Regions from separate parts of the Homo sapiens genome. Here region 1 is linked to region 2. The links come from fine-mapping of genetic effects on gene expression. Tissue or cell type: whole blood. Region 2 holds a variant in brackets; the other region holds the start of a gene. All regions are shown on one strand. Distances are between the middles of the regions.

What was found. PIP is the estimated chance that this variant, and not a neighbour inherited with it, causes the effect.
Region 1: CYLD starts here. The variant in region 2 is fine-mapped to the expression of CYLD in whole blood (TOPMed, PIP 0.95).

What each region holds. Positions count from the first base shown.
Region 1 is chr16:50,740,965-50,743,647 of GRCh38, reverse strand. It overlaps CYLD (CYLD lysine 63 deubiquitinase), which reads right to left and starts at 1,562. Exons shown (of 19, transcript NM_001378743.1): 1 at 1,524-1,562; 2 at 807-886. CYLD-AS1 (CYLD antisense RNA 1) reads left to right here and starts at 901. Exons shown (of 7, transcript NR_184279.1): 1 at 901-977; 2 at 2,244-2,320. MIR3181 (microRNA 3181) reads right to left here and starts at 1,343; the gene lies at 1,271-1,343. RefSeq lists an enhancer at 808-907 and a silencer at 1,148-1,747.
Region 2 is chr16:50,681,323-50,684,005 of GRCh38, reverse strand. No RefSeq gene overlaps it. Among named protein-coding and RNA genes, the nearest start is that of SNX20, 1.4 kb to the right of the region's middle. The variant A/C (reference allele first, on the strand shown) is at 1,519.

The DNA of each region.
Region 1 (2,683 bases), 60 kb before region 2:
GTTTGATAAACAACATAACTATTCCTTTCTCTCTCCCTGTGTTGGAGACTTCCTTAAATCAAACAAAACCACAGTTTAGGTGTGCCAGACTATAAAAATCATTGCTGCTTAATGTTAGTTGTGCTTTATATAACAAGCCTTATCTGCTTCTCACAAAAGTTACCACCCAGAGGAAGGTTTATTTGCAAGAATACTATACAATTTTGCAGCAGAATATTAGAGAATGTTCTGGGTGTTACTTCAATAAGAATTTCCAGCAAATCATTTTCTCCTAATACTGTTCTAGTTCAAATCCACCTACTGCTCAGTGGGGAATGGGAGGCTAAATTCTTAAGGCCATTCAGTCTACTTGGGGCGTGAGGGGGTGTGTAGAAAGCCAACAATCAAACGAACACCCTCTCAAGGCCTGGGTGCTTCTCTGAGAGCCAATGATTGCAAAATGAACAATCTTATTAAGATCCCTAATTAGCCCGAATTCAAAAGCAAGGTAGGCATGCTCCTTAGCTGAGCTAAGGATAAAACTTTCCAGGAAAAATTGAGGAGAAGAAGGTGGCAGGGATGATGGGGGCTGGGAGACTGCAAGGCCACAGGCTTGGTGGCTGGAAGATGACAACTATCCTAAAACATTCAAATGCCAAGGGGTGGAAGAGAAACGATGCCAAGTACATGAATAACCGGCAGCTGACCCAGCTGAGTACCAAACTCAACACCATCTCCTGAAGATTTCATGACTTCGCCCCCGCCCCCCATTCGCCCCCCACCCCCCTCGATTGTTAACATGAAAGAAAAACATAAAGAAAGAATACCTGTCACAGCAGGGCGCACCTTTCAACTAAGGAACTCCGGGTGGCTGTGTAGAACCATCCTCACCCTAGAAAGGGGGAAACTGAAAGAAAAAGCAGAACACGCCATTAACAAGGCCAGAACCCCGACTGCCATTCCTGGACGGGAGCCACCAACACCCGCAAAATCGATCGGTACGTACGCCCCGCGGCGCGGTCGGTAGGAATCACAGCCCCGGGCTCCTGAGGCCAACCGTGGCCGTCGGGGCCCGCCAGCGGCCTGTGCCTCAGTCTCCCAATCTGTAAATGGGGTGGGGGGCGGGAGGGGGACAGCGTCCCGCGCGGCTCCCGCCCCAAGTCCTCTCTCCTCTGGGGGTCCCGATGGTGGCGACCCCGCACGCTCCCCGGACTCGCAGCCCTCCCGGGAAGCCTCGGGGGATGGGGAAGCCCCGGTGGGGGGGGGAAACCCGGGCTGACGTCAGCGGGCTCGGCAACCCGCGGGCCCGGCCGGCTCGGGCCCGGGCAACTAACGGGCCGGCGCCGAGGGCCCGATGGTCGCCGCGGCGGCTCCGGACGCCCTGAGGCCAGGCGGCTGCGCCGAGGGGATCCGGCCGCCCGCCGGCCGCCAGCCGCCCGCTCATTCACTAACCTCGGGCGGCGGGGCGTCGCCCCTCGCCCCGGCTCCCCAGCCCGCGTCCCGGGCCGGCCCCGGCTCCCCACACCCACCGCCCTAGTATTTACCTCCGACGCGCGGCCCCCGCGCAGCCAAACCTGCTACCTGGGCCCGCCCCCACCTGCCCCGCCTCCGAACCGCACAGGGAAGAGGGAGGGAGCGGGGGCGGAGGGGGCAGCCGCCGCGCTAGCCAATCGTAGGCCGAGCTGCGCTCCTGAGCGGGCCGTGATTGGGCCTCCCTGTGACAGACCTTCCTCCAATGGCTGCCAGCCCGGCGCCGGCCGAAGGGACTTTCCGCTCTGTCAAGCTCGGTGGAACCAAAGGGAAAGCGAAGGGGCGGGGCAGAGAAGAGCGGCGGATGGAGGCGGGAAGCTCAAGCTGATTGGGCGAAAGGCTGTGGGTGCCGCGTCACCATTGGCTGATGCTGGAGCCGGGGCGGGGCGCTGCGCTGCCACCAGCTCCGCCTCCCGTGCTCCCGCCTCAGCTGTCAAAACTGTAGACGCTTAGGTTTGGGCTGGGTTAAGAGTCCAGATGAAGGTTGAAATAGGATTCCAGGATGCCGTGAGAGAGCAAAGCTTTAGAATCAGACCTCAGTTTGAATCTTTGGCGCTTTCATTCAGTGGCTGCGTGACCTGAGGAAGTCACAACCACGCTGAGCCTCAATGTCCTCATCTGTAAAATGGAGATCATAGTATCGGTTGTCTTACAGGATTGTGGCAAAATACCGAGCTAAAGTTCCTGGCACGCAGTACCAGCTCAGGAAAGGTTCATCTCTTCCTCCTCCGCAGATTCAGCCTGGGACGCTTGCTGTTTCCGAACCTCTGTTGCCACCTATCCCAGTTTGGAGGGAATTTTCCCAAGGATGGTGAAGAAGGGATTTCCACACGCCGCCTCACTCAGCCCCGCACCCCTGGCCACCAGCCAGGACTTAGGGTGTAGTTAAGGATCTTTCAATTAGAAGGGAGGCTTCTGATTCCCAAAAGCACTCAAAATATTTAAGGAAGTGCTTTTTATAATCAGTCCTAGAGCCTTGCTGCACTGGATACTCCTGTTAATTAATTTCTTCTCCTTTGACATTTTAAGTGCTAATTATAGGAGAAGGTGATTAACACTGAGAAAGGAGGAGGGGTGTGTGTGTGTGTGTGTGTGTGTGTGTGTGTGTTTTTAATCATGACACAAATTTCCCCCAGTGGAAAGTGACATGTTTCTGGAGATCCAGGGAATTTAA
Region 2 (2,683 bases):
AGAAAACTGGAAAGTTACGGGACACAACCCAGGGAGGAGAGGGCATTCCAGCCTCACTGTATGCAGGGAGCCACACCACCAGGCCCTCTGCTGGGCAGGGGGAGGCGGAGATGACCGACCTATGGCCCCTGCACTTACGGGGTGCCCCAGCTAGCAGGCCAGAGGCACACCACTCATGGCACTCCTCGTGAGCTCTGCCCAGAGACAGACCTTTGCAGATGTGGAGGTTCTTAATGACAGTGACGGCACTGCAGAGAGGTGGAATTGCAGGGCCATGTCAATAAGCAAGGTCAATAGGTAAACAGGGACATTATAGAGCCTCCAATGAAAAAGACAAGCAGCAACGGTTTTAGAATAGTAAGAACTGCCAGCACTTGTACAGCTCGGAACAGTGTTGTTCTAAGTGTTTGGCTCATCTGAACTCCTCTTGAGGTTCACAAGCCTATGAGCTTGTTGCAGAAGCAAATACAGGAGAAACCTTCATGCCCTCCAAGGATGACACTGGCTCAAGGCGGAATGTTTTGGCACTAGGAGGACTTCATTAAATTTCATGTTGCAATTAGGAAAGTTGAAATTCAACCATATCAAAGGACTAATATGGTTCTTTAAAGTTGACAACTTCTATTCGTCACAAAACTCCATTAAGAGAGTACAAAATGCAAACTGCAGGATGGAAAAGGATATTGAGAAGCACATAAACCCAAATGAATACATAAAGAACACCTACAAACCATTAAAAATAATCAAGTCAATAATGAGCAATGACCTTGAACAGACACTTCATTGGAGAAGGTATAAGGATGGCAAATAAGCCCATGAAAAGATGCTCAACATCATTAGTCCTTAGGGAAATGCAACTTAAAACCTTGATGAGAGACCACTGCACATTAATGCAGTGGTACACTGAAAAACACTGACCAAACCAGACACAGTGGCTCACATTGGTAATCTCAGTACTTTGGGAGCCCAAGGCAGGAGGATTGCTTGGGGCCAGGAGTTCAAGACCAGCCTGGGCAACATAGTGGCCATGATGGTCTATCCCTCCAGAAACAAAAAAAATTTATTAGCCAAGCATGGTGACGTAACTGTAGTCTTAGCCACTCAGGAGGCTGAGGTGGGAGGATCATTTGAGCCCAGGAGTTCTAGGTTGCAGTCAGCTATGATGGTACCATTGCACTCCAGCCTGGGTGATAGAGCAAGACCCCATCTTTAAAATAATTATAATAATGACCATATCAAGTGCAGGTAAGAAGGTGGAGCACCTGGAATTCTCATATACTGCTGGTGGGAATACAAAATGGCACAGCCACTGTGGAAAATATTTGGCGTAATCTAGCACAGTTGAAGCTATCTATACTCTGAGACCCAGCAATTTCACCTCAGATAAGTACATGGACTTGGATAAATGTGTAAGAATATCATCAGTGGCATTGATCATGATGGCCACCCTAGGAACAACCCAAGTGTGCATCAAAAGACAAAACAAAAAATGACAAATGGTGATGTATTTAAATAATG[A/C]AGCAACAGAAAACCAAACACAGCATGTTCTCACTCATAAGTGGGAGTTGAACAGTGAGAACACATGGACACAGGGAGGGGAACATCACACGCTGGGGCCTGTCAGGGGTGGGGGCCAGGGGGAAGGAGAGCATTAAGACAAATACCTAATGCATGCAGGGCTTAAAACCTAGATGATGGGTTGATAGGTACAGCAAACCACCACGGCACATATATACCTATGTAACAAACCTGCAGGTTCTACACTGGTATCCCAGAACTTAAAGTAAAATAAATAATAATAATAATGTAGCAACACAACAATGGAAATGAAAAAAAGTATCTACACAGAAATGCATCAGTGAATCTTATACCCATAAATGTTGCATGAAAGAAGCAAGGCACTGGAGAATACACACAGTATGCATGGTTCAATTTATATAAGATTCACAGATGAGTAAAATGAAACTGAATTGTTTGGGGATCTCATAGGTGGTAAATTTCTAAGGAAAAGCCAAGAAGTAACCCCCATCTGAATCAGGACTGTGACTGCCTCTAATAGGGAGGAAGGGAATCATGGCTCAAAAAAAAACACATGGCAAACTTCTGGGCGAGCCAGCAAAGTTCTATTTTTTTTTTTTTTGTCTGATTTCTGTTTCTTGCCTTCAAGGCCACAAAGATGGGTGGGCATGAATCACACCACACTGCCCTGGGGTTTCGCTTCCCTGGGACTTTCTGTTGGTGGTGATGGATACAGCTTTGCTCAGAGAAAAGGCACCAGATGGAACTGTAATTCTACCCCACTGCTCTTCTATGTCAGTCACTGGCTCTGTGTCCCACCAGCTCTGTGATCCAAGCCTCGGTTTTCCCATCTGTTCAAGGGGCATGACGGCCCCCATCATGCCTAGCTCATAGAGTAGAATAATGAATGTTAAAGGGCTCTGGGAGCTAATGCCTGAATTCCAGAGATCAACGGGGACTCGAAGGACAGCCAGACCTCTGCAAGGCGGCAGGGAAAGTGAGGCTGAGCTAAATCCCACAGGGCTGGCCCCACACCGCCTTGCCCTTCCCTGCGCTACCCGGAAGAAGAGGTGGGTACAGCTGGCAGGCTGGCAGTTGAGTTCAATATACCATGTTTCACCAGCCAATGGGCTGGGGCGATCAGAAGCAGGTCACACAGCCTGTT